6 linked regions of the Homo sapiens genome follow. The protein of the gene in region 4 purifies or fractionates together with the protein of the main gene of each other region. This does not show direct contact. Each region holds a gene or a part of one and is shown on either strand. Other genes may lie near its edges.

The links.
Region 1: the proteins of HMGA2 (region 4) and SMAD9 purify together in Homo sapiens (affinity purification with western blotting, with the first as the bait; one study listed by BioGRID). This does not show direct contact.
Region 2: the proteins of HMGA2 (region 4) and ETF1 fractionate together in Homo sapiens (co-fractionation; one large-scale study listed by BioGRID). This does not show direct contact.
Region 3: the proteins of HMGA2 (region 4) and SMAD5 purify together in Homo sapiens (affinity purification with western blotting, with the first as the bait; one study listed by BioGRID). This does not show direct contact.
Region 5: the proteins of HMGA2 (region 4) and SUPV3L1 purify together in Homo sapiens (affinity purification with mass spectrometry; one large-scale study listed by BioGRID and IntAct). This does not show direct contact.
Region 6: the proteins of HMGA2 (region 4) and VRK3 purify together in Homo sapiens (affinity purification with mass spectrometry; one large-scale study listed by BioGRID and IntAct). This does not show direct contact.

What each region holds. Positions count from the first base shown.
Region 1 is NC_000013.11:36,913,738-36,917,239, reverse strand, and holds part of SMAD9 (mothers against decapentaplegic homolog 9), read left to right. Parts: exon of another isoform or gene 1-461; intron 462-3,502. UniProt on the Homo sapiens protein: Transcriptional modulator activated by BMP (bone morphogenetic proteins) type 1 receptor kinase. SMAD9 is a receptor-regulated SMAD (R-SMAD).
Region 2 is NC_000005.10:138,515,735-138,519,236, reverse strand, and holds part of ETF1 (eukaryotic peptide chain release factor subunit 1), read left to right. Parts: intron 1-369; coding exon 370-545; intron 546-1,536; coding exon 1,537-1,676; intron 1,677-3,502. UniProt on the Homo sapiens protein: Component of the eRF1-eRF3-GTP ternary complex, a ternary complex that mediates translation termination in response to the termination codons. The eRF1-eRF3-GTP complex binds to a stop codon in the ribosomal A-site.
Region 3 is NC_000005.10:136,131,491-136,135,645, forward strand, and holds the start of SMAD5 (mothers against decapentaplegic homolog 5), read left to right. Parts: upstream 1-1,354; 5' UTR 1,355-1,472; exon of another isoform or gene 1,473-3,400; intron 3,401-4,155. UniProt on the Homo sapiens protein: Transcriptional regulator that plays a role in various cellular processes including embryonic development, cell differentiation, angiogenesis and tissue homeostasis.
Region 4 is NC_000012.12:65,834,481-65,837,982, forward strand, and holds part of HMGA2 (high mobility group protein HMGI-C), read left to right. Parts: intron 1-3,502.
Region 5 is NC_000010.11:69,190,232-69,193,733, reverse strand, and holds part of SUPV3L1 (ATP-dependent RNA helicase SUPV3L1, mitochondrial), read right to left. Parts: intron 2,080-3,502; coding exon 1,968-2,079; intron 1-1,967. UniProt on the Homo sapiens protein: Major helicase player in mitochondrial RNA metabolism. Component of the mitochondrial degradosome (mtEXO) complex, that degrades 3' overhang double-stranded RNA with a 3'-to-5' directionality in an ATP-dependent manner.
Region 6 is NC_000019.10:49,990,873-49,994,374, reverse strand, and holds part of VRK3 (serine/threonine-protein kinase VRK3), read left to right. Parts: intron 1-1,422; coding exon 1,423-1,515; intron 1,516-3,502. UniProt on the Homo sapiens protein: Plays a role in the regulation of the cell cycle by phosphorylating the nuclear envelope protein barrier-to-autointegration factor/BAF that is required for disassembly and reassembly, respectively, of the nuclear envelope during mitosis.

The sequences.
Region 1 (3,502 bases), on a different chromosome or scaffold from region 4:
TTTTGTCTCTTAAGAAACTTGTGTCAACTAAAGTTGTTAGGATTTCAAGATATCTGTTAGCATTAGGAGTCATTATACCCATGAAAACTGGATGTTCTTCTTGCTTGGTGGTCTTCATCCTGACACTTCCTACCCCAAAACCATGACGGACACCTCGGCCGCACTTGCCTGACTTGTATTCTGCTCTCCTTTGGTGTCGGCTTCCTTTTGTGTTAGGCTGACCCAAGACCACTTTTCCAGGCTTATCTTCCCGGTCTTTCCCTATTTTATGCTGCAGTTAAAATAGCAAATGCTAGTTTCCATGCATACCCTGGCTTTCCTCTCCTGTGCACCTTTACCCCACGCTGAGGCCTTCCCAGCTTCCCCACCTCCCACAGGATCCTCAAATATGACTTCTTCATCTTGTATGCCCTGTTCAGGCGCTGCCTTCACGGGACTTTCTGTGATGACCCTGGTCCCAGGTATGTCCTCCTTCGAGCTCCTGTGGCTCTTCGCCTTTTCAACTCTTACCTGTTTTGTATTAAGTTACTCATAGACTAATTTATTTCTTCCCCTCAGACCATCCTTACAAGATCCAGGAAGGAAGGGACTGTTTCATCTACCTTTTTTATTCTCTGAATGCTGACCACAGTGCCCTTTATAGTACTCTATCAATAAATAACAAATACATGACACATTTTTTCACTGAACCCATGGTCCCTCCTGAAATAAAGTCTGTAAAAGCATTTCACCCATAGGATAAAGTCCATCTTTCAAGAAGCTGGTGTTGAATCTGAGCTGAGGACTAGTTCAGAGGCCTGAAATCCCCTCAGCCCAGTTGAGAGCCTCCTTCTCCTGAACATTGTGGCTGAGCATTACAGTCAGGAAAAGCTTCTATGATACTCTTATTGCATTAGCAGTTTTCCATATCAGATTCACTAAATACACAATGGAAGCCATTTAGTAGAAAAACAGATTTTAATGTGATACGGCTACCACAATGAAACACTAATGTGATTCCACAGAAAATTGCTAACACGATATGCTGATTCCTCCCCCCACCATAGCCGCATAAAAATTGATACTGTTTTTAATGTATGTGTTTCAAACTATGCTCACAAAAGAAAAGCAGACTGCTACTGAGATGAGCTGCTGCTTTGTTCACGTTGGATGTGTAAAGGGTCTTGTTATCAGCCTCGTCAGGCAGAATCTGCCTTCTGTGCCTTGGTCATTCTATTATCGAACAATACTAACTCTCATTTTAAAATATATCATGTTCTGTGTAACAATCCAGTATTAAAGTTAATATGATGTGAAAAAATAGAATTTGCTTATAAATGTCATGCCCATATAATATATTCAGTTGTACCGTTTTAATTGGGAAGCTCTAATCAGCTCAAAACGCATTTTTCAAGAATCAAAACGACTCCCAATATAAAATTTAAATTCAGAATTTAAAATAAAAGGCATAAATATTAAGGTGGATTGTATATGTGTGTGCACACGGTTGTAACACTTTAGAAGTCATAAGCACTGAAGAGATTATGGTTCTTCCCCCTCATTCCCAGCCCACATTTAATTCAAAGAAAAAAGTTTAACCCAAAGAATAATTGTAAAGGAGACCTATGTAGTTCTGATTTTTTCCTATAATGACAATTTCCAATTCCTCTTTTTTAGATATTAAATATCAAAATCTTCTCTCTCTCTCTCTCTCTTTGTCTCATTCTTTGGTACTCTGATTAGCTGATTCACTGGTGGGGATTATTTTTATGTGAATTTCCCCTTGGGGAAATTTAATACTTAATATCTGATCACTTCCTTTTCTTTTTCATATTTAATTCTGAGGGACTATAAATAGAAAACATGTACTCCTCAGTCCCGAGGAGAGTTTGGTGCTGCAGTTGCGAAAAGCAATCTTCAGTTTACAAGCACTAGGAGTGCCAGGGATGCCCATTCATTCTAGGACTCCAGTTGCCAGTTTTCTATCACTGAACAAAGGAATCTGGATAGCATACATGTGGTCTTGCGGCCATTCAAACGTGTTGGTGACATTGGGGATTCTGAGTTGAGGATTCTGACGACTTAGAGTTTGCAAGTAGTAGAAGTGTGAACACTGTGAGGTAGCCACATCCTGAACTCACTGACCCCAGGAGCACATCCCTAGATACACTGGGCCATTTGCCTTAAATGACTGCTTTAATCTATGGAATATCTTCTTCCATACAGCCTGTTTTTTACTTTTCATCTGTTAAAGTGCTTAGAAGCCTATCAAATACAGATTTACTTTGGTTACTGTGTATTTTGATTTGTTTTCACAAAACGCAATAATTGTGCAATGGTTAATGTCATTCTAAAGGATTTTGTCCTACGTACTTGTGGGCTATGGAAAGCTTACAGCAGATTTGCAGGTCTTTTTTAAGAAGCATTTGATGGATGGTAGCGTTCAACTGAAGTGCCAGGAGTTGCTTTCTGAATTCTTGTATCTAAATTTAACTGACTTGGTAGTACCACATTTCAGGAGTTAATGGTAACGCAGAAAGGGATTCACAGATTCCATCAGTTTCCCACTTTGTGGCAGAATATTTGACATCTCTTATCAGTACACTTCATCATAAGTTCATGAATTCATCTTGCTCCTTTCTTTGCTGAGAATCACAGTGAGAGAATTGGAGTTTGGCTGAGAGGAGGAGTGAGGAAGGAAGAAGGAAGAGTAAGTTTTTTTTTGTTTTGTTTTTGTTTTTTGAGATGGAGTCTCTCTCTGTCGCCCAGGCTGGAGTGCAGTGGCACCATCTCGGCTCACTGCAAGCTCCACCTCCCGGGTTCATGCCATTCTCCCGCTTCAGCCTCCCAAGTAGCTGGGACTACAGGCACCTGCCACCACGCCCGGCTAATTTTTTGTATTTTTAGTAGAGACAGGGTTTCACCATGTTAGCCAGGATGGTCTCGATCTCCTGACCTCATGATCCGCCGGCCTCGGCCTCCCAAAGTGCTGGGTTTACAGGCGTGATCCACCGCGCCTGGCCCGAGAGTAAGTCATTTTAAGGCTTGGGCAGTAGCACTGTTGAGAAGTTTGAGGCACCTAAGTGTGGAAAGAGGGTGTTACAGAAAGCAGATTGGCAGATGCCAAAGGTAGACATCACATATTTGAATTAGTGTTAGTAGTATGAAAGGCACCTGCGTTGTGAGTTGAGAGGATCCTAGTGAGCTGGCCAGGGAAGTACATTAGCACTCATGACATTGTTCTAGGGGAAGGTGAATTCCAGTTTCCAAATAACTATGCAGGATTGAACACCATTTGTTCATAAAGCAAGACCACCAGTGATTGATGATATGGGTGATTATTATTAATGACATAAGTGATTATTAGAAGCCAAGAATGGTGGTAATGAATGTGGAAGATGAAAAATGTGTTAAGCTAAAAAGATTTTAGGTCTCATGTGGTTTTCTTTGTCTTGTTTATGCATTTAGTCATTCTTTGTTTTCTAGTGGAAGTAGAATTTTATTTTTAGGAATAGGAGTTGAA
Region 2 (3,502 bases), on a different chromosome or scaffold from region 4:
AACCACCACATTTGAAGGCTCTCCCACGGACAGATTCACTACCAAATTCCAGCCTGTTGACACTCCTTATTTATCATAGATAGCTTCTTTCTTTAGGAAATGAGGTGTTTCTCAAGTATCTCTCCAAGTGTATTCTTTACATAACTTACCTCACTATTCAATCAAATTGAGCACTAGATTCTGAACACTGTTCCTAACTCTGTGTATACGTTCATAAACAAGACTAATATAGTCCCTACATTACTCCTTTGAGAGTGACCTGTTTCCATAACTTTGGGGCATCTCCCTGTAGCTTGCTTTTACCAGAGAGAAACATGAGTTTACTTACATGATATTTAAATCCCTAATGAGTTATTCTTTCTTCCACAGCAATGGCACCAGCATGATATCATTGATCATTCCTCCCAAAGACCAGATTTCACGAGTGGCAAAAATGTTAGCGGATGAGTTTGGAACTGCATCTAACATTAAGTCACGAGTAAACCGCCTTTCAGTCCTGGGAGCCATTACATCTGTACAACAAAGACTCAAACTTTATAACAAAGGTAATCTGGAGTTTGCTCCTTTTCCTTCTCTACACATTTTGGTTATGTTTTATACTGTGATGCTGCTATGGTGCTTTGTTCACTAATGTTCCCTTAAGTCGGCTGTCATCAGTGTCTCTTTGGCCTTGGTGGTTAGCTTTTTTGTTTTGTTTTGTTTTTTGTTTATTGAAAGTTAAGTAGGCCAGGCACAGTGGCTCATGCCTGTAATCCCAGCACTTTGGGAAGCTGAGGCAGGTGGATCACTTGAGGTCAGGAGTTCGAGACCAGCCTGGACAACATGGTGTGAAACCCTGTCTCTACAAAAAATACAAAAGTTAGCCAGGCCTGGTGGCACACACCTGTAGTCCCATCTACTCTGGAGGCTGAGGCGAGAGAATCAACTGGACCCGGGAGGTGGGAGTTGCAGTGAGCCACGATCTCGCTGCTGCACACTAGCCTGAGTGACAGAGTGAGGCGTTGTCTCAATTTTTTTTTTTTTTTTTTTTTTTGGGATGAGACAGAGTCTTGCTCTGTCACCCAGAGACTGAAGTGCAGTAATCCGATCTCAGCTCACCACAAGCCTCCCAGGTTGAAGTGATTCTTCCGTCTCAGCCTCTCGAGTAGCTGGGACTACAGGTGCCCATCACCACGCCTGGCTACTTTTTGTATTTTTCGTAGAGATGGGGTTTCACCATGTTGGCCAGGTTGGTCTTGAATTCCTGACGTCAGGTGATCCGCCTACCTCGGCCTCCCAGAGTGCTGGGATTACAGGCGTGAGCCACCACCACGTCCAGCCTGTTTACTTTAAAGAATAAATCGTACTGAAACGTCTCAGAAGAAGTTTTAAAATTAGGGAGAGAGTTCTGCCTGAGAGATTTCAAGCTTTTTCTGCTTTATTTAAATTATGACTTAAAGGATCAGGCAGGGAAAATAGGCTATGGGAACATTTTCTATTAATTGACGAAAAACTAGATATGGGGTAAAGTAGAAAAATTGTTTGTGTTCTTTGCAGTACCTCCAAATGGTCTGGTTGTATACTGTGGAACAATTGTAACAGAAGAAGGAAAGGAAAAGAAAGTCAACATTGACTTTGAACCTTTCAAACCAATTAATACGTCATTGTATTTGTGTGACAACAAATTCCATACAGAGGTAAGAAGTCAAACCCAGAACATTTTCATCGCTCCAGAATTCTTTCCCCGTACCCATTAGCAGTCAGTCCCCCATCCCTCCCACTTACCTGTCTCATTCTAGGCAACCACTATATTTTCTTTCCATAGATATGCTTGTGCTGTACTTCTTTTATTTTTATTTTTTTATTTTTATTTTTTTATTTTTTTTTTAGACGGAGTCTCGCTCTGTCTCCCAGGCTGGAGTGCAGTGGTATGATCTCGGCTCACTGCAAGCTCCGCCTCCCAGATTCAAGGGATTCTCCTGTCTCAGCCTCCTGAGTAGCTGGGATTGCAGGCACATGCCACCACACCCAGCTAATTTTTTTGTATTTTTAGTAGAGATGGTGTTTAAACACATTGGTCAGGCTGGTCTCAGACTCCTGACCTCGTGATCCACCCACCTTAGCCTCCCAAAGTACTAGGATTACAGGCATGAGCAACCCCGCCCAGCCTGGACATTTTATATAATGGAATCATATAGTTTGTGGCCTTTTGTGACTGGCTTCTTTTACTTTATACTTTTAAGGTTCCATGTGGTAGCATTCATCAGTACATTTCATCCCTTTTGATTACCAAGTAGTATTCCATTGTATACCTATATGCCATATTTCATATTTTATATAGCTTCTCGTTTCATCAGTTTTACATTTGAGTGGTTTGCACTGTTTGGCTGTTCTGAATAATGCTGCTGTGAACATTCATGGACAAGTTTCTATGTGACCATACATTTTCATGTTTCTTAGATTTGTGGAATCGTGTAGGTTATATAGTAATTATGTTTAACTTTTTAAGAAGTTGCTAGACTGTTTTCCAAACCGTTGTACCATTTTACAAAGCTGTCTGTTTTCAAAAAGTAAGGCAATTTACATTTATTATGACACTAGTCATTCAGCATGTTTTGAGACAGAGTCTCACACTGTCGCCCAGGCTAGAGTGCAGTGGTGCAATCTTGGCCCACTGCAACCTCCATCTCCATGGTTCAAGCGATTCTTGTGCCTCAAGCCTCCTGAATAACTGGGATTACAGGTGTGCACCACCATGCCTGGCTAATTTTTTGTGTTTTTTTAGTAGAGACAGAGTTTTGCCATGTTGGCCAGGCCTGTCCCAAACTCCTGGCCTCAAGTGATCTGCTCGCTTCAGCCTCCCAAAGTGTGTGTGTGTGTGTGTGTTTTGATTTTTGTGGGTACATAGTAGGTGTATATGGGGTACATGAGATGTTTTGATACAGGCATGCAATGTGAGCTATCACACTATGGAAAATAGGGTACCCATTTCCTCAAGCGTATATCCATTGTGTTACAAGCAGTCCAGTTATACTCTTTGAGTTATTGCACTCAGTTTTCACATAACAATTGTAAAATTTTTAGTAGCAGAACTGTAAGAACTCATTTTCCCCCCTTTCCCCTGAAACTTTTGAGTGACAAAGCTGCCATAGGATGAACTTGAACAGTGGAAAGGAAACCTCATTAGAGTGACCTAAATCAGTCAACAGTAGAACAATCAAGAATTCACAGCTGGCTCCTTAGTTCATTCTCTTGCCTTTCATCAACCTAGGGAAAAACCTCTACAGTGGAATTAGAACTGACATTTGTCGACAGTTTACAGTGGATGATTTTTGCTAACTTGATGGGAAGTCCATTTATAGTTGGATCTTGGTCGACTGCATAGACAATCCAGACTGTTTTTCTCTTCACTACCACACTCTACTTACAGCAGAGGGTTTTTCAGGGAGCCTCTCAGCCACTGAAACCACTTACCTGTATCTGGTTGGATGAAAGCCGATTTTGAATCTTGTTGATTTAAACA
Region 3 (4,155 bases), on a different chromosome or scaffold from region 4:
GGTCCTTATTCCCACATTTCCCTATGGTAACAGTTGGCTGGAATGAAATAGCAGTGACCCCTTTGGTCTCTGGAACTAGACACTCACTCTCTGGTCTCTTCCCCCACTTCCCCTTCACTCCTTTACTAGCCCTCTGTCACCATTTCAGATGGCCACCCCTAATGCAGAGACTTCTGGACATTTATTTAGTTTCTTCTCCACAGAAATAAACTTCTAGAGCCTGGAGCAAAATAGTGGCTGCGCCATTTGTGTGTCAGATGAGATGACCCTGGCTCGGGCCATGGAGGTGGCAATTGAGGTGTGAGAAATGGTCAGATTTAGGATAAATTTTGAAGAAAGAGTCAGTAGAATTTCTGATGGATTGGATTAGGGTGTCAAAGAGCATTCCAAAATGACCCCGATTTTGATTTTTACTTATTTTAAAAAGAAAACCTATAATAGAACATTGGAGAGCCAGTATTGACCTTTTCAAATAAAAACAAAATTATTCAAAAGCTTTTTCTTACTAGTACTATTCAAATCGGGTACCCTATGTGGTACCAATATTATATTCTAGGAAATACTGACGGTTTTGGAAATTTGGAGGAAAAAGCATCGAGAAGAGCTCCAATTACTTAGAAAAGAGAGTCCAGGAGATGGGGTGGTGTATATAAGCCTATGGATGGTGTCTCTGCAACTCAGTGGCCCCGCCTGTCCAGGGGCTGGGTCCCCACGGGATCTCCCTCCCCACAAGGAGGTGGAGAGGCTATGTGTCTTGAACAACTGGGGTTGCGATCCAGTGTATGGGCAGTCCCACTCCTGGAACTCCAGGGTGGGCACTCGCTCCATTTCCACAGGCCCTCAAGGGTTCCAGGATTGCCCCGTGGGAGGGGTTTTAGTGCTGCATCTAGTAAGAAGCTGTAAGATGCTCAGAAACATGTTTTGAAGCTACTTTGCACAGAAAGAAGACTCTTCATTCAGATTTGTATTACAGATCAATAAAAGTAGCTAAGTCGTATCTGAAGATGTTTTTGTTTACACTTTGTATGTGACAGAAAACCTCCAGTTGTCTGTGTCAAGGACAATTACTTAATTTTATTACAATGTATACTGATTTGGTTAGTGGAAGCTTCTAGCGCCTACTGTGGTGGTGGTGGGAGCTATCTGATTCCCATTCCCAGGCCTGGCCATCGACGCGAAGGCCTCCAGCTGATCGGAAGTCGGCGTTGGCCGGCGCGGAGCCCGGCGCGGAGGCTTCTTTCAGCCGCCCGGGCAAGACACCCCTCCCTCGGTCCCGCAGCGGTCACTCCGCCTCTGGCGCGCATGCGCCGACCCCAGCGGGCGTCCTCCCGGGCTCCCTCTCCCTCCCTCCCTCATCCGGGTCCTGGGCGAGCGGGCGCCGTGCGCGTGTCCCGCGGCCGAGCTGCTAATAAAGTTGCAGCGAGGAGAAGCGCAGCGACGGCGTCGGGAGAGCGCGCCTAGCCGGCTCGCGAGTGAGTGAGGGTCCCCGGCGCGCGCGGGCGAGGGGAACTGGGGGCTGCAGGCTCTGCCCCGGCGGACTCGGGCCGAGGCGGGGGCGTTCGGCCGCGGACGGAGCGGAAACGACCCAGGGCCTGTCGGGCGGGAGGTAGGCCGAGTCCTGGCCTGCCGGGGTCCCGGCTGGCGGACACGGTGCGGCCCAGCGGCTGCGGAGGCCTCGCTGGCTGCCCGGGGCGTCCTGAGGCGGGGCCGGGGCTGGCCCTCGTCCCAGCCCCGCTGTTACCGCCCAGACTTTGGAGGGAGGCGTCTGGGACGCCCTGGAGGGGACCCCCTGACCCCGCGCTGTCCTGGGGAGCGGTTTGCTTTCCTAACTCATCGGATGTACCACCCTGGATACACACCCTTGATAGGACTGCGGTGCTCGGCCGGGCAGCCTGGGCTGCTGCACTGCGAAGCTGTCCAATGGCTTGATGAATCCGTGCCGCCGTCGCTTTGTGTTTCAAAGATAAGGATCCGCGCTTATCGGTGGGAATTACACTCTGGGCAGTTGTGACCGGCTACTGCAATCAGCTGGTAGTTAGACCTGGTTTCTGCCACTTGCCATGTCAGTTTTCACCACTGCAAGGATTTCTTCTACTTCATGTAAACTTCTCTGTGCTGCAAAGAGAATGCCAAAGCAGCGTCTTTTTGCCTTCACCATATTCAGCCGCTGGCCGGGTCCTATACTTCAATATCAGGGCTCAAATTAATATTCCAGTCTCTTCCCCTCCCCTTTTCCCCTCTCCTCCTTTCAGCTGCTGTTACTACGTGGAGTTTGGAGCCTAAGCTTTGAAAACTCCCATGTGGCGCGCCCGTCTTAAGTCTGAGCATGCTCAGTAGCCAAAACAGATTTTTGGTTGCAGAACTCGGGCGAGGATACTTGGGGTATTTGGACGTTTGCCGGCTTCCCAACAGAATGTTCCGGTTCTGGTGGTGATGGCATTGGAGAATGGGGCTTAGGCAAGCCTGTAGGTGAGGAATGGCTGAACACCCTGAGCCAGATGTTTATCTTGATTGTAAAGACAATGTTTCCTGACCAGCTGGAGCTTTGGGGGGGGGGGGGGGGTGTTGCGGGGGGAGGGAGCAATTTTGGTTGCTTGTGCATTTAAATGGGTGTGGCGCTAAGTATATCTTGTTTACCTTATCTTTCTGTGGAAAAGTTTTGATGTCTAGGTTTGTCACATCATGCCTGTTGCCTAGCACTACCAAAAGGGTTGTTATCTAGCAGCAAAGATTGAATAGGTGGAGGTCGTGGCTTGGCCTCACAGAAGTTGAGAGGAAAGGGTACTTGGGTTGCGTTTTTGAAAATTCGTATTTAAAACTAGAGTACTTGAATTTCCTTAGAGTACCTGAATTGCCCAGAGTGAATTAGTTTTTAATTTTAATTTGAAAGACAAAAGATTGAAAACCTTAGTCCCAGTAGGTTTAGTAACATTCCAAATAGCTTACAATTTCTGCTAGATGCCAATGCAGTAGTATCCATTGTGGGGAAAACAGTACCTACATTCAGTGTGACAGTTTCACATTTATGGATCCAAATATCATTATGAAATTAGTGTTCCAAATTTAAGGAGCTATTTGCAGATGTATAACAAATTATTTTAGTCTTTTATTCCTTTGGTAACTATTAATATTTTTTTCTCTACAGTGAAAATTGTAAAAATGCAAAACTTAGACAATTTAACAAAACTTAACCTTCATAAAGGTTGTAGATACTATGTTTAGATTTATAAAGTTTAATTTTGATGATTATTTGTGTGATTGTTCCTATACAGCTTCCTTTCCTTCCCTTTCCACATTGTTGCTCCCTCAGTCTTTTTTACATTACTGCTGTTAATTTACCCATGTATCTTTGTTAAAAATACCTTATTCATCATTTTGTGCTTCCATTCCTTTCAGATCATAGCTGAAATAAGCAAGAAAAGTTAGATTAACCTTCTCAACTGACTTTACTCTCAGGTTTTAAAGGCATCCACATGATATGGTCTAGTTAAAAGGAGGAAGAGAGCAGCAAACTGGAAAAAAAGAATAAAATATTTTCGTAGGTTCTGTACAGATCTGGTAGTATTATCTGCGTGTCTGGTTCACTGTGGTAGGCGCCACAGAAATGGGTAGATTGATAATGTGTTGGATTTCTTTCCCCTCTGGCAAAGTCAGCTATTAATTTCAGTGGGAGACAGTGGCAGAATGTTGTTACTAATGAGGTTTGAATCAGATTGTTGTTTACTGTTGGTTATGTAACATGTTGCTGGGAGTATTATTAAAAGTTGCATTCTGCAGCAAAGTAGAGGCAAGTAAATTCTGCTTACCCTCTTCACTGGGTTTTAATTCTTGGCTGAACCTGAAGGCACATTAGATTACAACCATAATTATACCTGGGCAGCCTGTCTGTTTCCTGTTTTCATCATGAACCCAAACATTATGATTTGCAGTGATGATCTTTTTTGTCCTTTGCATTGAACGGAGGCAGTGTGTTTTCTCCCTCTACTGAAAACAGATTTGTAACTTGGTCAAATTAAAGATTTTAGTGTTTTGAAAACTAGGCAGTAAAATACCAGTTTTTCATTTCTTAATACAGTTACTTAAGTTGAAATACCATCTAAAAAAATCTATTTCATATATATTCTTTGTCTTTATGTAAATTTTAATATTACTAGT
Region 4 (3,502 bases):
TATAAACACTTTTCCTTCCTTTCCTCTTGCCCTCCCTCCCTCCCTTCTTCCTCCTTCCTTTTTTTCCTTCCTTCCTTCTTTCCTTCCCTCCCTCACTCCCTCCCTTCCTCCCTTCCTCCCTCCCTCCCTCCGTTCCTCCCTGCCTCTCTCTTTGCCTCCCTCCTTCCCTTCCTTCAACAAGTATATAGTGAACACCTCCTGTACACGAGGCACTAGTGCTAAGCACTGTTTTCAAGCTCAAGAGATGTATTTGCTAGTGAATTTCTTTCCTAATTAGTTTTTAAAATATGCAGTACATTGAAGAGCCTGGAGTACAGAACTTCTTAGAGAAAGAAATAATTATATTTCCCATTTAACATTTCTCCTAATCTTCATGGACTTGCTTCTAAATATATCATAAAATTAAGTGTACAGTTTTGAATCTGAAGTTTAAAACATAAAAATATTAATGAGGGCAAACAAGGGAGAAATGACACTTTTAATGAGATATGATTGTTGTAAATATTCGCATAATAGTGCTGGTAACAGTCTGAAATTTCAGTTCTTACCAATGAGAATTCCGACCATATCTCCCTTTTCTCTCTTGATGTGAGCAATAAATAGTGAGAATTAGTTATGCCTCTGTTATACATGGGTTTGTAGTATAAAGCCAAATTCTATTCTGGCAAAGGAAAACCAAATATACACTTCTACAGTATTGCATATGTTAAAACAAAACAAGCCTCCTGAATGTTTTGTTTGTCTTTTTTGAAAAATAATATCCTGAAGAGCATTAAACACAGGAAAACAATATTAAAGCTGATGTTTTCCAATATGTAAAAATCCTGGATCTAAGCTGGTTTACAAACTAAAACCCTAACTTGTTTTGCAGCCTTTGTGGAGTTTGATTAGAATGATTAAATAATGTGGGTTTTAAAGAACAATGAAAACCTCCCAGATTGACGCCACACAGCACAGCTAATGTGTTTCTTCTAGATGTAGTCTCAGAAGAGGGTTTCAGTTTACATGTAACACTGGCCTGAACGACCAAGGAGCAAGTTTGCTTTTAACAAGTCCGAGTGATAATCGTGATATTTTGCCCTTTAGTTAATGGTGCAAATTTTATTTCTCAATAGGCTTTTTGTAAATGAGATGCTCATTTAAAAGTCATCTTATTTGCAGGGCTTTTTCTGTTTTTGAGAGATTTGCTTTCTCTGATTTTGAAATACAGTGAAACTCTTTCAGAAAAAAAACCTCTCTCTTCAATAGATTTTAGATACACCCAGATCACATCATGGCCCCTGAAACATAACAACCGTGCAGAAAAAGCCTGGTGTAGCACTGTTAACTTCTAAGGTCAATAGGCTCCTTCTCCCACCCTGACTTCACACCCCCTTTTCAATAAAAAGGATTTCTATTTTCCATGTTTGTGTAATTTACTACTGGGTTAACTGTGCAATCTTACAGTTGCTTCCAAAGATTAAGTCAGATGCTGCTTCTGTGCTAGAGAACTCCACACTCATGTATAACTCACTATGCAATAGCCAAAGGGATCCTTAAAAGCCTCATTCTAAAGGTGACAGATGGGTGTGAAGGAATACTTGCATTGACCAAGGCTTCTGTGAGAGGAAACTAACTTGAAGAAAAACTCCCTTTCTGGGAGGCAGAGGCGGGCGGATTACGAGGTCAGGAGATCGAGACCATCCTGGCTAACATGGTGAAACCCCGTCTCTACTAAAAATACAAAAAATTAGCCGGGTGTGGTGGCAGGCGCCTGTAGTCCCAGCTACTTGAGAGGCTGAGGCAGGAGAATGGAGTGAACCCGGGAGGCGCAGCTTGCAGTGAGCAGAGACCGCGTCACTGCACTCCAGCCTGGGCGACAGAGCGAGACTCCGTCTCAAAAAGAAAAAAAAAAAAAAAGAAAAACTCCCTTTAAGGGTTCCATCTAGTTAGGAGTGAAAGAACACTTATGGAGCACCTCATGGGAGGCAGGAACTTCTAAGTACTTCTAGGAATGATGTCTCACAGGAGGAGTCATCTCCATTGCACGGATGAAACCAAATTGAGGTCTTCAAGGACCTGCCCAAAGTCATAAAGCTAAAATGGAAGAGCAGGAATTGGAATCTAAGCGTTCCAAGGTAGAGTCTGTGATCTTCTCAGGGCACCTCCCTCTCCATGAGGCAATGCTCTGAAGAGGGTATTATTTACTTGACACTCTGGGCTTTCGCTAAATTCATGCCCTTGGGACTGAAGGTAAGACAATGCCACTAACCTCTGACAACAAATGATTCCTTTGTGGAGCCATTCAAAAGTGATAATAAACAATGATTCAGAGTGTCCAAATCAGATGGTTAGATAGAACCCCTAAAGGCTACCAGGTTTTCTTTTGTCCTGGGAAATTAACTGAATCAGTGACAATTTTAGTTTCCTAAAGTATTTTTTTATGGTAGCAAATGCTTGTATACTACCGGGTAGTAGCATTGTTAAGAGGCTAGGAGCACAGTCTTTACAGTTAGACAAAACTGGGTTCAAATCCCAGGTCTGCCACTTACCTGCTTTGTTTGTGACCTTGAGCCAGTTGTATACCTAACCTATCTAAGACTTAGTTGTTCATCTACAAAATAAGAGGAATAATAATACCCACTTTATAAGGCTGCTGTAAGGATTAACGTAACACATGTGACTGACAATCGAGTGCCTGGGATATTTTAAATGCTCAATATTTGTGAGTTAACATTACAGTCATATAGAGTTTGCGTTAATTCATGGGACCTGTTGGATAGTAATGCCAGATCAGGGAGATACTATTTGGTGAGAAATGTTGTGGCTTATTTTATCTCTCATCTACCTGTCTGTCTATCTGCCTATCCATCTATCTGTTTGTCAACTATCATGTAAAGCTATTTGTTTTTACCAGGCAGATTGAAGAGAAAAAGAGGAAAGTTTCATTTGGCAGTGTAGACAGTCAATATCACTGTACCAAGTACCCCCACCGGCTGCTAACTCAGATAACAAAAGTAAAATGTGGAACAAGGTATCCTGGTTCAAGTTACCTGTATTTGTGTGTTAATATAGCCATGGATGATTCTTATACATGAAACAATATGTACTAAGTTTTCTTTATCCTAAAAAGCAGGAACACGTTTTTATAGATGTATGTGATATGTGTGTGTATTGGTGTGTTGTTGTGTATGAAGATTGGACTAGGGCTGACAAAAACGGAAAAACTAATTGCTTTATAAATAATGTTAACAACTGTGATATCAGAAAAATCTTCTGTGAAGTAAAGCAATGAAATAAACTCTCAAGATAGAAATGTATTCATGTTAAGTGTGGGATTATGGTTAATAAAGTACATTTTTAATTAATCATTATTTCTAGGCACATATAGTTTTAATCACTGGGACAAACTGATGATTTCTGCCTGCTTTTTTTTCCTCTGCTTTAGGTGAACTGATTGACAGGTGATTGTTTCAGGCAAGGAACATTAAATTAAACATGTAGAAGTGTGCAAATATTTGTT
Region 5 (3,502 bases), on a different chromosome or scaffold from region 4:
TCAGATTAAAAATTACTTATTGAGGCTGGACATGGTGGCTCATGCCTGTAATCCCAGCACTTTGGGAGGCCGAGGCGAGGCGGACTGCTTGAGCCCGGGAGTTCGAGGCCAGCCTGGGCAACAAAGTGAGACCTCTTCTCTACAAAAGAAAAATTTAAAAGTGAGGCAGGAGGATTGTTTGAGCCCAGGAGGTCACGACTGCAATAAGCTGTCATCGTGCCACTGCACTCCCACCTGAACGACAGGAGTGAGACCCTGTCTCAAAAAAAAAAAAAAAAAAACTACTTCGTGATCTGGATATGTACAAACAAGACTAGAAGAGAAGACATAGAGAAGAAATTCTGATTTATAAACTTCTGTGCAACTGTACAATATATTACTTTATAATGTATTGATTTTTTAAAAACTATTCTTCTCACAAAGTTGATTATTAAAATGAAAAAAAGCAAGCTACCAAATAGTAAAGTACCTTCCTATTTGTTTAATATACACACCCACCATGCACATATAACTATATGCATACACAACATGAACACAAATATTAACAAAGTCTGGAAAATATATAGGGTTAATTAACACCTATTGATTCCGGATAGGTGGGACTGGGAAATTATGTACATTTGTTTTCTTCTGTTTGCTTGCTTACATTTTTATATTTTCAATAATGAAGATATGATTGCTTACATAATAAGGAAAAAGTTAATTTTCACTTAAATGTTAAGGCCAGGTGCGGTGGGTTATACCTGTAATCCCACTGCTTTGGGAGACCTAGGTGGGAGGACCACACAAGGCCAGGAATTAGAGACCAGTCCGGGCAACACAGCAAGAACCCATCTCCACAAAAAATTTATTAATAAAAAATTAGCTGGGTGTGGTGGCTCACACCTGTAGTTGTAGCTACTCAGGAGGCTAAGGCAGAAGGATTGCTTGAGCCCAGGAGGTCGAGGCTGCAGTAAGCCATGACTGCGCCATTGCACTTCAGCCTGGGTGACACAGTGAGCCCCTGACTCAAAAACAAAACAAAACAACTTTAAATAGAAGCTCATTGTGGCAGTGTACATAACAGGAAAAAACTTTAAACAACCTAAATATCCTTTAACAAATGGGGAACAAATAATTTCAGTTCTAAGATGGAATACTATAAAACAGTTTAAATGAAATAACTACAAATATGTAGCTATAGATACTTCAATAAGACTAGATAGATCTAAACACATTTGTGGAGTAAACAAGCAAGTGGTAGAACAATAATAATACAATAATCACATAAATGTTTTAAAACACAACAATCTAGAATACTGGTAATACGTATCAGTGATATAATATATATCCTGAAAAGAGACAGGAAAACTATACACACCAAATATCTGTTACCAGTTAGAACAAAAGAGGAGAGAGGAATTAAACTGGAGAGTGGTACAAAGGAAATTTCAATTATGCTTATTAACATTTCAGCTCTTTTAAGAGAAAAAGGGAAAGAACTTCAGGTGCAGGCATTTGTCAGTGGTGGCAGGATCGCACGTTTGTCATACTTATTCTCTTCTTTTTCTAGATTTTAAAATTTTTTCTTCACACAAAAAAATCGTATTTCACATGTTCAAGTGTATTTTAAAATTAAAAATACCATGGTCAGGCGCAGTGGCTCACGCCTGTAATCCCAGTACTTTGGGAGGCCGAGGTGGGCAGATCACCTGAGGTCGGGAGTTTGAGACCAGCCTGACCAACATGGAGAAACCCCGTCTCTAGTAAAAATACAAAAATTAGCCGGGTGTGGTGGCGGGCACCTGTAATCCCGGCTACTTGGGAGGCTGAGGCAGGAGAATCGCTTGAACTGGGGAGGCAGAGGTCGCAGTGAGCCGAGATAGTACCATTGCATTCCAGCCTGGACAACAGAGCAAGACTCTGTCTTGAAAAAAAAAAAAAATTAAAAATACCAAACCATAGTTTCTTAAACAGCATATACATACAAGGAGTTGTAACACTGCACATCTCAACTGTACAAGAAACATGTGAAGCCTGTTTCCCATTTGGCTGAACTGTCACACGCTCTTCACCTGTCACCAAGTCACATGGCACACCCTAGAAAGACAGAAAAAAAACTAGAATTATTGAAAATAATGCAAAAATACGTTTTGGATATTTAACAGGGTGTTCTCTCCACTACCACCAAATTAGTTTGTTTCACAGTTAAAACATAATGTTCCCACGGCCAGACACGGTGGCTCATGCCTGTAATCCCAGCACTTTGGGAGGCTGAGGTGGGCAGATCACAAGGTCAAGAGATAGAGACCATCCTGGCCAACATGATGAAATCCCATCTCTACCAAAAACAGAAAAAGTAGCTGGGAGTGGTGTTGCACACCTGTGGTCCCAGCTACTCGGGAGGCTGAGGCAGGGGAATCACTTGAACTGAGAGATGGAGGTTCAGTGAGCCGAGATCATGCCACTGCACTCCAGCCTGGAGACAGAGCAAGACTGTCTCAAAAAAAAAAAAAAAAAAATTCCCAATGCTTTTTTCCCTTTTATAAAAAATAAAGTAAAATAAGAGCCACTCTCTTACACAACTTGGGTAAACCTGGAAACATCTCAAATCAGCTAAATCCTCAGGTAACAAAAGCATGAGACACTGCAGCAGTTTCACATTTTAACTTTGTACATCTCTGAACTATTTGACTTCATTAAAATGAGTTGTTTCTATATTCAAGAAGAACATTATAAATACAATTTAAGAATGTAAAGACCTCCTATTATAATTCCCTGAGAGGGACCAACATTAATGCTGTATCAGGGTGATCAACCATTCTGGTTTGTCTAGGACTAATGGGTTCCCCAGAATGGAGGACTCTTGGTGCTAAATCTGGAGAAGTCCAGGCAAACTGGGATGGCTGGTCATCATAATAGCCTGAATCTAATCATGGGGAAACACCAGACACATCCAAACTGAGAGACAGTTCACAACACAACTGACCTATAGTCTTCCAAAATGTACAGGTTATGAAAGACAAAGGAAGACTGAGGAACTGTCCAAGATTAATGGAAACTAGAGATATGACAACTAAATACAGTGTAAGACCCTGAAAAGAACCCTGGAGGGGTGGAGGATGGGGTGTAATTGGACAATTGATAAAATTTGAATATAGATTGTGTATTAAGTAAGAGTAATCTATCAATATTAAATGTCCTGCTTCAGACAAATATCCTGTGGTTACGTAAAAGTCTGTTCTGAGGAAACATATTCTCAAGTATTTACAGATAAAGAGGTATTATGTATGTAAATTGCTCAAACTGTTCAGAAAAAAAAAAAGAGAATGCAAATTACCTACCAAAACTGGTTAAACTCACATTATAAAGTCATAATAAAACAATGAACCAAAATGTAGCCCATTTAGTGAAAATGATGCCTCAGACTACAGGGCTTCAGTCCTTTCAGTTTTGAAAAGGTAGCTTCAGTCTTTATCATTAGCTCTAGCTGATAGCATCAGAGGTCTAATCTATAAAAGGT
Region 6 (3,502 bases), on a different chromosome or scaffold from region 4:
ATTCATCAGGCACTTGCTGGGTGCCAGACGCTGTCCCCGGGGCTGGGTGCAGAGCAGGGAGCAGCATAAACATGGTTTCTGTGTCTTAGAGCTCACAGTCTAGTGGGAGGGGCCAATAGTGAATCAAACAGTTGCACAAACTATGACAAGTGCTCTGAATAGAAGCGGCCCCTGCTGTGATTGAGAGTAAGAGGGCCCAGTTTGCATCGCTGGAGGGATGGACGTACCAAGGGAGCGACATGCTGAGTCCTAAGGTCTTTATGTTCAGTATCTGCAGTATGGCACTGCAGTGCGGAAGAGATGGAGTTGGTCTGGAGAGGTCAGCGGTGACCACATCACACGGGGCCTCGCACAGCAGGCTGAGGGGCTGGGATCTGTCTTGAGGGCACTGGAGAGCCACAAGAGTGCTGGGATTAGGGGAGGGCGGGGTCAGCTCTGGGTACAGAAAGGCCCTCAGGGGCCATATGGGGAGGGACTGGAATGGGGAGAAGAATCTGAGTGAGGGTCCATGTGGGAGAGGACAAGGCTGAGGAGGGTCCCGGGCCCCGGGGGTGGAGAGTCTATAGGAGGAGAACGAGCAGAATTTGGTGGACAGTAGAGCCCTGGGGTCAAAGAGGGTTGGGGATATGATCAGAATGTAGCTGACACTCAGGCAGCAGACACAATCAAAGAATTGGCCGGGCGCAGCAGCTCATGCCAGTAATCCCAGCACTTTGGGAGGACGAGGCAGGTGGATCACTTGAGCTCAGGAGTTCAAGACCAGCCTGGGCAACATGGCAAAATGCCCTCTCTAATAAAAATACAAAAAATTAGCCGGGTGTGGTGGCACCCACCTGTAGTCCCAGCTACTTGTGAGGCTGAGGTGGGAGGATCACCTGAGCTTGGGAAATCAAGGCTACAGTGAGCAGTGATTGTACCACTGCACTCCAGCCTGGGCAACAGGAGTAAGACCCTGTCTCAAAAATATATATATACACACAGCAAAAAAAGAGTCTGGAGCTCATAGGGACAGCTGGAGCTGGAGATCAAGATATAAATTGCTTAACAAGATTTATTTCTGCTCTCTAGGACAGGTGAGAAGAGCTCTTTGATATCCACAGGTGCTGAGTCATTTTTGCAGAGAGACATTAACCCCTTTTCCCTCTGCTGAGTTTGTCATCAGCTAAGAGAGAAATACAGGAGTAGATAGGAAGCCACGCTTTAGCTCAATTGATGAGCTTCCTGAGAGCCTGATTAGAGGCGTGCTCAATGTGCTGTCACAGCGGGCTCCTCATGCTACCCCGGATTTAGTCAGGTTTAACCCCCAGTCACAGTGTCGGACAACCCCAGGCCTTAATAGTGGGGCTCCCTCCTGGTCTGCACCATAGCCTCTCTGTGTTAGTCGTACTGCTCATGCAGACACTGACTTGCTTCTTCCCCCAGCTGGATGCCCTGGAGTTCCTCCATGAGAATGAGTATGTTCATGGAAATGTGACAGCTGAAAATATCTTTGTGGATCCAGAGGACCAGAGTCAGGTAAGAGCCAGCTCCTGCCCACTCTGGAAGATCTCTGGGCTCAGGTTCCCATCTGTCTCCAAATCTCTATTTATTTCATAGTGCTTATTACAGACAAAGGATTGCTGTCCATCATATATAAAGAGCTCCTTCAAATAAATAAGATAAGCAACTTAGTAGGAAAATGGACAAAGGATAAGAAAAGCAATTCTTAAAAAAAGAAATCCACAGGCTAGCTAAATAATATGAAAAGATATTCAACCTCCTTAGTAACTATAGAGATGTAACTTAAAACAAGATACTATTTTCACCCTTTGAACAAAATTAAGCATGATAATAATATTCATTGCTGATAAGGATATAAGGAAGTAGGAATTCTTCATATACTGTTGGAAGCATGAATTGGGAAACCCTTTTGGAAGGCAATAACAGTCACAGTTTTAAATGCACCTGTTTTTTGTCTTTGATTTTGTTTTGAGATGGAGTTTCACTCTTGTTGCCCAGGCTGGAGTGCAATGGCACGATCTCGGCTCATCACAACCTCCACCTCCTGGGTTCAAGCGATTCTCTGTCAGCCTCCTGAGTAGCTGGGATTACAGGCATGCGCCACTACGCCTAGCTAATTTTGTATTTTTAGTAGAGATGGGGTTTCTCCATGTTGGTCAGGCTGGCCTCGAACTCCTGACCTCAGGTGATCCGCCCGCCTTTGCCTCCCAAGGTGCTGGGATTACAGGCCTGAGCCACCGTGCCCGGCCAAAATGCACCTGTTTTTTGATCCACAAGTTCCTGTCTTAGGAAGGTGTCCTACCTATATATTCATAGGATTGTTCAAAGATAAGTGTACAAGATGTTCCTGGCAACACTGATTGTAATAGTGAAATGGGAAACACCTTAAGCGGGATACTGATTAAATAGTATTTTAAAGTAACTTCTAATTGCTCTTACAATTACAAATGACAGAAACCCAACTTTACATGCCTTAAGCCAAAAACCAAAAGGGACTGTGTGCAATGTATTAGTCCACAGAATGGAGCAATCCAGGACTGCACTGTCTCGGGCACGGCAGGATCCAGGAGCTCAAACCCTGTCATTGGGAAGCCGGCTCTCCCATCTCTGGACTCCTCATGCTTCTGCACTGCTCGTTGTCAGGCAGACTTATTCCTCATGGTGACAAAATTGCCACCAGCAAATTAGGCTTAAATCCCCAAAGCTTAGCAGCCCTGGCAGAAACAGACCTGAACTGCGTGGACTGAGAACTGGGGAAAAGCAATCCCAGATGAAAATCCTGGAACTAAGCATTAGGAATCTTCAGAGAAACAGAACTGGCAGGGTGTGTGTGTGTGTGCGTGTGTGTGTGTGTGTAGAGATTTATTATAAGGAATTGGCTTATTGATAATGGAAGCTAAGCAGTCCTGAGATTCTTCAGTTTGCAATCTGGAGACCTAGGAGAGCCAATGATGTAAGTTCCAATCCAAAGGCCAGCAGGCCTGAGACCCAAGAAGAGGGGTTGTTTCAGTTCAAGTCCAAAGGCAGGAAAAGACCAATGTTCTAGCTCAAGCAGTCAGGGAGGAGGAGCTTCTGGTTACTTAGCTTTTTATTCTATTCACATCTTGAGTTGATTGAATGAGACCCACCCACATTAAGGAGAATAATCTGCCTTGCTCAGTCTACAAACCCCAATGTTCATCTCATCCAGAACACCCTCATAGACACTCCCAGAATAGGGTTTGGCCAAATGTCTGGGCACCCCATGGCCCAGTCAAGTTGCCACATAAAAATGACCATCATGGCCAGGCCCAGTGGCTCACACCTGTAATTCCAGCAGTTTAGGAGGCCAAAGTGGAAGGATCGGATCGCTTGAGCCCAGGAGTTCGAGACCAGCCTGGGAAACATAGGGAACCTCATCTGTACAAAATAAAAAATAATAACCTATCCAGGTGTAGTGGCATACACATGTGGTTCCAGCTACTCAGGAGGCTGAGGTAGAAGGATCACCTGAGCCCAGGAG